2 separate regions of the Homo sapiens genome follow, and region 2 is linked to region 1. The links come from fine-mapping of genetic effects on gene expression. A gene starts in region 1. The other region holds a variant in brackets. All regions are shown on one strand. Distances are from middle to middle.

Region 1 (5,376 bases):
CTTTCTGGCTTAAGCAGATGAGGCTGGTAGCACAGAAAAGAGAAAGCAGGTTATAAACATTTCATCCATCCTTTCTTTTTTTCTTGAGACACCGGTATCTGTCAGTCACCCAGGCTGGAGTAGAGTGCAGTGGCATAATCACGGCTCACTGTAGCCTCTAATTCCTAGGCTCAAGCAATCTTCTCGCCTCAGCCTCCAGAGTAACAGGGACTACTGGTGTGTGCCACCACACCTGGCTAATTTTTAAACTTTTTTTAGAAACAGGGTCTCGCTGTGTTCCCCACAGTGATCTCAGACTCCTGGCATCAGGCAATCCTCCTGCCTCAGCCTTCTGAATTGCTGAGATTACAGGCGTGAGCCATTGCTAATTCATCCTTTAAAATCACTAATATTTACTGAGCATCTACTGCTATATATTCATGATCGCACTCGATAGAAAACATAAAATAACAGAGACACCTTGTTAAGGTTGCAAATGTCCATTTCACTTCTTCTATAGAAAAGGTCACTGGATGTGGTGGCTCATACCTGTAATCCCAGCACTTTGGGAAGCCAAGGTGGGCAGATGGCTTGAGGTCAGGAGTTTGAGACCAGCCTGGGCAACATAATGAGACCTTGTCTCCACACACACACACAAAAAAATACAAAAATTAGCTGGGCGTGGTGGCATGTGCCTGTAGCCCCAGCTACTTAGGAAGCTGAGGTGGGAGGATCACTTGAGCCCAGGAGGCAGAGGTTGCAGTGAGCCAAGATCGTGCCACTGCACTCCAGCCTGGGCAACAGAGTGAGACCCTGTCTCCAAACAAACAAACAAAAAAACTGTAAAGGCCAACTCTACTTTTACAGTACAATCACAACTCAAGAAACCCTGGTAACTTTCAACAGCAATAAAAACAAGGTTTGTGAGCTCATGAAATGATCTAATATACAGCTTCAGCGGCCTCTTACAGGATAATGACCCCATCACCTCTTCTTCATCTGCCTGACTACTCTGATATCAAAAAAAAGGGGCTGGGCACGGTGGCTCACACCTGTAATCCCAGCACTTTGGGAGGCCAATGCAGGCAGATCATGAGGTCAAGAGATTGAGACCATCCTGGCCAACATGGTGAAACCTTGTCTCTACTAAAAATACAAAAATTAGCTGGGCATGGTGGCATATGCCTGTAGTCCCAGCTACTCGGGAGGCTGAGGCAGGAGAATTGCTTGAAGCCGGGAGGTGGAGGTTGCAGTGAGCCGACAGCACACCCCTGCACTCCAGCCTGGTGAGAGCGAGACTCTGTCTCAAAAAAAAAAAAGAAGGTTGGGAGGACAGATCCAGTTTGTCAGAGGAATTACTTGAACTAGCTGAGTCCTTCACTATATAAAAATGTTTTACTTAATATAACTATTTCAAAATTAACAGGCAAAACCCCACCAGAATGGTCTTTCAACAAACTGAAAAATTTATCAACAGTGTCTTCTTCAAGTACTCTGCAGCCTAAGTTTTAAATGAACTAGTTCTAGAATATGATGTCATGTTTATCCACCAAGTCATAAAATCTCTGTATTACCCCCTCATAGAATTTTTGTACTAGGAATTACCTTGGAGATCATTTAGTTCAATACCTTTATTTTATACACAGTGAGGTGGCGGCCCAAAGAATTCAGCTGACTTGCTTGATGCTCTTTCTTGTGTCTGACAATGTTCCTCCATACTCACAGCACTTTAGACGTTAGAAGAACCTAATGACATCTGTGGGAGGCAAAAGCTACTCGACTATTTTTACAGAATCCTGGAGCAGAAAGGCTTCTGAGATCACAGAGTTACAAATTCCTACCAAATGATTCAATTCTGTTTACATCATCCCTCAAAATCATCAAGTTTACTCAAGCATCTAAATAAGAAACAGCATATTCCATTTTTCAAAATAATCACAACTTTTGGGAATGACTCTCATCTTTTGATCCAAAAGCTATGTCCAGTAACTTCTTACTGACCCTCCCGCTAGTCTCTGGAGTTAGGAAGACTGACACAAGCAATGTAAACACTTTTCTATGAGAGTTTCCACAAGCATAAGGATAATGACCCTATGCCTACAAAGCATACACATCCCCAGCTTATTTAATCAGTTCTCCTAAGACCTGCTATCCAGGCCCCTCACTGCCACAGGTGTTATCTATGTCTTCGTAAAAAGCAGCACCCAGAAGTGGCTGGGAATGGCCAGATCAGTCCTGACTAAGTGTAAACATCACCTCTCCTGATCTGAGTGCTACATATCTGGTAATTTAGCCTACAAATAAACTGCATTCTGACAGACACGTTAGTTGGTTTAAACTGAGTCAACTACAACTATGAGGTGAATGGCATGAGTCTCTTTCACCCTGTGCTGAAGAGGCTGGATTTTATCTATAATGGGCCTCCCTTCAACTGTTTCCCTGTTATTCAAGTACTCACACAGCCTCTGACTCAGGCAGCCTCTCGACTGAAAACGGCGACTAATCCAGTCCACTCCACATCCTGGACTGTCACTCACCCCCACGCCACAGAAACCTGTTTCTTTCTCATAAGCTGTGGATAAGGTGGAATGTGTAAACTACTCCCTGATACCAAGTTTCCAGGTAAAAAGCACTGTCAAAGTTGACACTATTTTCCTTAAAACATTTAAAAACCCATACTTTTACATGCAAAATCAATATAAAATCATCAGTAACTTGGTCTTTTTTTTGGTTAAGGTTTATTGCTTCAGTCTCTTTCAAAGAATTTTTTGATACTTAAACCTTTACAGAAAAATTTATAAAGTTCCACAGATATCAACAATTCATAAATTCCAAGGGGCTTTTGGATAGTTTTTTTTAATCACTATAAAAAATTTCACTTCCCATTTAAAACAAAAAAAAACACAAAGTGCACACACGTACACGAGGCTAACTGCTCATTACATGCTCAGTCACAGGGTGACAGAGAAAAAAAAAGTCACCACCATAAAAGGAGGTCTGCACAGCCTCTCTTAAAACAACATGCCACAGTTAAAACTTACTTCAGTTTGGACAACTACTCACAGCTACTACACAGAGACCCGAACGAGTCACTGATATGTAAGTACAAGATCTTTTGCTTTTTCAACAAACTTTTTAAAGAAAAACTTTAAAAGCCTAAGTTTTAAGGTAAAAGGTAAAAAGGAAAACAATCTATTTAAGAACAAGCTACCATCACTTCTAACAAAAATTATATTAATAATGTAAGTTTACTCTCTCTGCTGACTGGTAGGTCTAGTTAGTTCTTATAAAGTTGACTGAAAGCGATGGGTCCACCAGAAATATCTTTGTCAAAAAATAGGGCTCACTTCATGTACTACTGTATAAACTCACAATGACAAAAGACAGTATCAAGCAAAACTATGCAAATAATGCCAATATTTCAGGATAACTTAGTATGAAGGAAAAGGAACAAAGTTATTTTAATATAGAATATTCCTATGCTATAGGAATTATTAGAAATATAAGATTATTTCTCAGGATAGAATCTCAGGGGTAGAATTCCTAGGGCAAAGGGTATATTTTCTAAAGCTTTAGATATAAAACGGTACTTTTTGGTCTACAAAAACATTTTACCAATTTACCCTCCCGCCAGCAAAGAGTACCAATCTTTGCTTTTTAAATGCTAAATACTACTAATTAGATAAGTGAAAAAAAAGTCTGTTGTGTGGTTTATACTTGTGTTTACTTAGACTAAACGTATCTTTTCTATGTGCCTGAGGGGAAAAAATCACAATGAATTCTATGCAGTGCTTTGGCAACATTTATGTCCAGGTTGGGAATGGTGGTAACAGAAACTTGGCAAAATAGAAGCTGTGAAGAGACTTCCTTTAAAGGGCAGTGAGGGTTTTATATATGTGTGTTTGTGTGTGTGTTGGGGGAGGGGGGCGTGGTATTTTGTTTTTTTGGTGTCACTCTGAGTACAATATAGTGTAATAAGAGCAAGGGCTCTGAAATCAGGATCAAATGAAATTTACAAGCTGTGTGGCCCCCCCACACACAAGTTACCTAATATCTGGCTTCAGCTGCTTTACCTGTAAAATGGGGAGTATTACTACTGCCAAGTCCTTACAACATTGCCTCTCATTATAAGTGCTAAAAAACTGTCTCCCATCATTCTTCTCCCATCTCTCTGGCCACTGACGTACCAGAGGGTGAATCCAACAGATATGTTATGGATATTTTACATAAAGACCCTGAATCAGGCTGGGTGTGGTGGCTCACTCCTGTAATCCCAGCACTTTGGGAGGCCGAGGCAGGCGGATCACCTGAGATCAGGAGTTCGAGACCAGCCTGGCCAACATGGTGAAACCCCATCTCTACTAAAAATATAAAAGTTAGCCAGGCACGGTGGCACTCACCTATAATCCCAGCTACTCAAGAGGGTGAGGCAGGAGAATCCCTTGAACCTGGGAGGCGGAGGTTGCAGTGAGCCGAGATTGCGCCACTGCACTCTAGCCTGGGCGACCATGCGAGACTCTGTCTCGATAGATAAATAAATAAATAAATAAATGGCCCTGAGTCTATGGATGATCACACATCTAACTGTGCTTACTGGTAGGACTGCACACTTCTTATATTTTAGCATGTTTTCTCTCTGCGGGTTCACTGCACTTTTTGGACATAAAACCACAAAGAATATGCTACTCCACAAAATGTTCACTCACATGTTTATGTATCGCGTTAGTGACAATGGTAATGATCCCTTGCATAAATTACTTTCATCTGGCTTCCTAGAGCTAATTAGTACCATGACCAGTCAGTTAATGGAATAAATATTAACTCAGGTTTCTATATGACTTTAATTCATTTATTTATTCTATAGATATTTACTAGATATCTATTGTAGGTTGGTTCTGTAGCATTCTATAGGATAAAATGTTGGATGAGATCAAGTCATCATCCTCAAGAAGCTTACATTTAAAAGAGCTTCGCACCTAATAAAGCCGTTTACAGGGATACTTTTCTCTCTGCTATGGTTAAGACCTGCTGGAGTTGTTAGGCAGCCCTGGACGTGGCCTGTGTAGAGGACGCGTGGTGTTCTCCAGTCTGGGGGGTTTATCACCTTCTCAAGAAGTCTGGGCATTGTATAAAATGAGATAACACATGTGAGAATCCTCTGAAAGCTGTGACAGTAACACAGATGGCTGTGGTGTTTTGGAAGCCCAAAGAGAAGAATAAAAATATTTTGTTAAATCTCTGCAAATATCTAAAAAGTAGTTTAAAAATCAATTAACAGCATAAAAGCCTATTCTAGATATTCACCATCTTTTTTCAATCGAAATTTCAGTCTAAATTGTTTTATTATTAAAATACTGTTAAAACAGTACTCTAAATCCATTTATAAAACCTTTACTT
Region 2 (5,376 bases), 130 kb before region 1:
TCACCGCACCCAGCCTTGAGAAATTCTTTTCTCTGAATTATCAACCTGGGTTAAAAGGTACTCATTGTCAGCTGAGAGGCCGAAGTATCCAGGCAGCTTTCACAATAGTGTTTCTGGTGCAGGAGGAGATTTTTATTGTTCACAGGGCAGAAGTGTGAGACAGGACCTGGTATATACAGGTACTTCATCTGTTGTAAGATAAAAAGCTATTAAATGTAGCTCTGCTATAAAGAAATTCTTTTTCTTGGAGCCTTGAGAAGCCAAGCGGTTACTCTAAAATGCTCTGGGACAATTATCATGGAGAGCTCAAGGCAGTTGAGGAACACAGACTCTGTGGTCTTGACTATATTTATTTTCTTCTTTGTGTTTGCAAACATGTGCCATGCTTTCTACAAGAGCATGAATTATTATAGTTTAAAGATTCACATTCATCAAAGCCAGTCCCAGCTGAGGCAGATACAGGTGAGTGATACACGATGGGGTGCATGCTGAGGTCAGGGAATCCATTCATCAGCACGTTTGTATTCAGATCTCAGTGTGTGCATAGCACTGCGCTTGGTGAGGAGGGGAGACAGGAGGCGGAGCCACAGTCCTGCCATCAAGGGGGAGGAAAGGGATGGAAGGGAAGGGACCTTTAGCATTTATTGTACCCCAGACACAGTTTATACACATGTGACTCCCTTAATATTCACAAAGGACCTCTGAGGAGCTGTTATTATGATCCTCATCCTGCAGAGGAGCAAACTGAAGCCCAGAATGGGAAGCTACTCTGCCAGGTAAGAGCAAAACCTGCACCTCCGGAATCCCTACCTGCCCTGCTCTGCCAGGCTTAGGCCCACGAAGGATTCATTAACAATGTCAGGCAGGCAGTGTGGACCATGGTAGGGGAAATGCCCCAATGGGAAGGATAAAGGAGTTTTGGCCGTCAGTGACTCTTATTTGGGAAACCAAGAAATTGCCTGGACTTTCCCAAAGGTACAGGGAGGTTTGGACGTGTTAAACTGGAGCCCACATGGTGGCGCGCACCTGTTGTCCCAGTGACTGAGCTGGGCTTGAGCCCAGGAGGTTGAGGCTGCAGTGAACCATGGTCCTGCCACTGCACTCCAGCCTGGGCAACAGATTGAGACCCTGTCTCAAAATAAAAATAAAAATAAAAATAAAAAAAGTGGAGCCCAGCTGGAGGCAGAGACAGGCCCAGCAATGAAGAAACAGTGAGCTGAGAGGGGTGGAGAGAATGGGGTCCCTGCATGCTTGCCAGAGTTCCCCAAGGCATTTCCAGTTAATAAGTAAAATGTATTTAAAATGTGAAGACTGGCTGCCAATCCCTCACGGAACTCCCAGACTGGACTTACTTTCATCATCCTCTTGGTGCTGTTGAGCCAGGTGCGTTTCTAACAGCCCTGCTGAAAGACAGCCAATGGCGTAAGACTTTTCTTTTTTCACATAAAAACCCACTAAGCTTCCCGCAGACATCAGGCCTTTCACCTGACTCAGGGCCCGCGGTTATACCTGTGTAGACCTACGTTAGCAAACAGCGGCTTATCGGAACTCGGGCCCTCTGACATCAGCCAGGAAGGAGCAGGCTATGCTGCTGGGAAGTGCAGGCCTGAAAGGCTGTTTTTCTTACTGAGTGAGCAGTAAGGTCACCCAGATAACCCACTCCTGAGTCACGAGGCCTTTCTGACCTATGACTCTGGAGGGCAGCTCTGTTTATTTCTTCTTTGTGGTGACAATGTGGGTGTCACCTTGAGGAGCCCATTGAAGAAGTTCATTGAGTGAGAAGACTCGGCCGGGTCTCCGGGGCCGCTGTAACAGACTCAGGGCTGCAGTAACAGACTCAGGCCACCGTAGCAGACTTGGGGCCTCTGACGACAGAAATGTATTTCCTCGCCGTCTGGAAGCTGGGAGGACCTGGTTCAAGGTGCGGGCAGGGCTGCTTTCCCCTGAGCCTCTCCACAGTGTCTTCCACCAGGGGCTTCACGTGGTCTTCCCTCTGTGTGCGTCTGTGTTCTAATCACCTCTTCTTGTAGGGACACGAGTCATGGGACCTTTTTTAATCATAATCACCTCTTTAAAGATCCTGTCTCCAAATACAGTCCCATTCTGAGGTACTGGAGGTTAGGACTTCAACCTACAAATATGTGGGGGTGCAGTATGCCCCTGACTTCGCTGGAAGTGATGGAGGTGAAGTTGGTCAATGGTTTCCAATGCTCTGCTCTCCCTACACTGATCGGGGACTGGCCTCTGTCAGGCCTTGTGAGGTGCCTGTGCCCACCCACTGTGAGCCAAAGATGGAGGCTCCCAGAGAAGATAGTCCCAGCCCTCCCCCACTAGCCTGGAACCCATCCTTCCAGCTCAGATCACACTCTGAGGAAAGAGATCCCTAATCCAGGCAGCTCAGACACCTGCTAGGATTCTCCAGACCCCCGCGAGAGCGCACCCTGTGGTCCCGGGAGAGGGCAGAGTAAGCCATACCTCAACAGCACTCCACCTGCTCAATGGCATGAAACAGTTCCACATCTGCTGGACCTGGAGGAGGTGTCTTCCTAGGTCACCTACATGCAGGGCACCATGGCGATTTGGAGATACAAGTGCCACACACAGAGACAGAGCCACGGCCTGCCTTATCCAGCTGCCCCCAGCATTTTTTAAAAAATTAGACAGGGTCTCACTCTATTGCCCAGGCTAGAGTGCAGTGGTGCAATCACTGCTCACTACAGCCTTGCGCTTCTGGGCTCAGGTGATCCTCCTACTTCAGCCTCCAGAGTAGCTGGGACTACAGATGTGCATCACCATGCCCAGCTAATTAAAAACAATTTCTTTGTCAAGACAGGGTCTCAATACAATGTCCAGGCTGGTCTCAAACTCCTGGCCTCAAGCAGTCCTCCTGCCTCGGCCTCCCAAAGTCCTGGGATTACAGGTATGAGACACTGTGCTGGGCCCCTGTCAATTTTGGAAGGATCCAGTTGTGTTTCTTCATTCATTTAACACATATTTGTAGAAAGCAAATCCGTGCCAGGCATAGATGCTTGAGATTCATTAGCCAACGAAACAGAAAACAACCTGTGACCTCATGGAGCCTCCATCCCTAGCGGGACGGGTACAGCAGGGGCTTCACCCAGAGAGGCTTCCTGTGAAAACGCCCACTGGGTCCTGGGGAACTGGGAATCCCCGGCCGCTTCTGCACAGGGCTCCTGGGTGGTTTCCTGTTTCGGCTCCACAGCCGGGGGAAGTTTCTGCTGTTTGCTCCTCTGCACTCTAAGCGGAGATGTGCACACTCGCGAGCAGGGATTTTTCTGGTTCAGGAAAGTCCTGCGTCCTTGGGCGCACTTTC[A/G]CAAGTGTGAGAAAGCCAGTTCAAATGTGACTTCCCGTGAGAAACCCTGCCTGGCCTCCCGCCCTCCCCGGCACTCTCAGCATGAATCATGCTGCGTTGTCACTATTGTCTTGCTCATCTGTGCCTGTCGCATTCCCTGAGTTCCTCCTGGCGGGGTCTCGGCCTTGTTCATCTTTGGACCTGGTGGCCAGCACAGAGAATGTGCTCAATGAATGTTTGCTGGATTGAATGACACACCCTCAGGTCCAAGTGGGCCATGCCCCTCTGCCTGCAGCCTGGTGGCCGTCAGGGTCAGGGCTCCCATGCTTTCTGATACCCGGGAGGATGGGTCTCTGACCATGGGATTTTGAAATAGCAATGAGCCTGAATAACATTTTGAGATACTGGCAACAACGAAAGTGTGGAATGAAACTTCCCGTTATTTCTGCTGGCTAACACTAAGTGGTTGCCACCTATGTTCATAATACAAGGAACTGCTCAGTTTCAACCAGAGGTGAGTGAAAACAGATGTCATTGTTTTCCCATGTCAGTTCATGAGCCCTCTGGGTTGTATTCTCAGGTCGCTCGAGGGTCCACTTGTGCTCCATTTAGAACCTCCGGACTCTACCGCTCATCCCCCAAGTTAGCCTGTCACCTTTCAACTCCCAGGGGCTCAGGTGTCAGGGCCTTCGCGTTGCACCTTAGCCTTGGTGTAAGTCACGTGCCCTCAGCTCCTGCCCCTCTCCCTGAGTGACGTCCTCTCTACAGACAGAACTGGGCACTTTCTCCTGCTCCCCAGTGGACCCGAGGCACGAAAGCCTCAGCAAGCAGGGAGTGACAGGCACAGACCACAGCAACCACCCGCAGCCGGAGCAGAGTTCGCGCTCTCCCAGGGGCCCTCCTTGGTGGCTTTGGGGGGGCCTCAATGCCAGGGTTTGCATCTTTTCTTTTCTTTCTTTTTTTTTTTTTTTTTTTTGAGACGGAGTCTCGCTCTGTCGCCCAGGCTGGAGTGCAGTGGTGCGATCTCAGCTCACTGCAAGCTCCGCCTCCCAGGTTCACACCATTCTCCTGCCTCCGCCTCCTGAGTAGCTGGGACTACAGGCGCCCGCCACTACGCCCGGCTAATTTTTTGTATTTTTAGTAGAGACAGGGTTTCACCGTGTTAGCCAGGATGGTCTCGATCTCCTGACCTTGTGATCCGCCCGCCTCGGCCTCCCAAAGTGCTGGGATTACAGGCGTGAGCCACCGCGCCCGGCCGCATCTTTTCTTTTTCTCCTTTTTCCCAACTACTGCTGTGCTTTCTGGCTTTGTGCCTTCCTTCTTTGCTTCCTCTCCCATCACTCCACAGACAAGGAGGCTCTGTCCAAGCTCCTGTCCTGGCTCGCTCAGCCCAGCCTTCAGGTTCTCAGCCCAACACGAGGGTCTCCTTGGGTAGTCAGCTCAATCATTTCAAGCTATTAATCAACGGACTTCTCCTGAATGCATCCAGACCTCTCCTCAAGGTTAGTTTTGATGAATACAATTTTCTCCATCTTGTTACAACAGGGTCAACGGTTCTTTGAAGAATCTTGCTCCTTTGGGACTTTTTTCCCACGGATGTGCCCTCTTTGGGGGCAAAGACATGATCCATATCTATCACCATCTCCTCTTTTTCTGCAATCACTGGACACCTGTTCATTTGGGGCAACCTAGGGCAGCCCAGAGTCCCTGTGGAGTCCTTATCTCATCGGGACGCTGGGTGGGACACGAGTAGTTTATGACAAACAGGTTTTTCTGACAAACGCAAGCAGGAGGAATCATTAGGGAATTGATAATGTAATTCACTGCACTGAGTCGTACAGGCATCTCAATAGACACCCCAAAAAGCATTTGGCGAATGTGAATATTGTTGATGAAACTCCTAGCAATCCAGGCTCAGAACACCTCATTCCTAACTTGGTAAGGGTGGCTACAGAGACTCTCAGAGATTAAGACATATAACAGCGAAATCTAAGAGAACAGGGGTGCCTGCCATCACTGCTTCTCTCCAACCTTGTAATGTGGGTCATTGTCAATGTAGTAAA

Evidence for each region.
Region 2: its variant is fine-mapped to the expression of GPR183 in monocytes (TOPMed, PIP 0.98).

What each region holds. Positions count from the first base shown.
Region 1 is chr13:99,305,042-99,310,417 of GRCh38, reverse strand. GPR183 (G protein-coupled receptor 183) reads left to right here and starts at 3,019. Exons shown (of 2, transcript NM_004951.5): 1 at 3,019-3,078. The region is part of intron 4 of UBAC2 (UBA domain containing 2); the gene reads right to left.
Region 2 is chr13:99,430,838-99,436,213 of GRCh38, reverse strand. LNCARGI (lncRNA antiviral response interferon signaling inducer) reads left to right here and starts at 3,464. Exons shown (of 2, transcript NR_197585.1): 1 at 3,464-3,827. RefSeq lists enhancers at 2,888-3,617, 2,625-3,824, 4,068-4,147, 4,158-4,337. The variant A/G (reference allele first, on the strand shown) is at 3,335.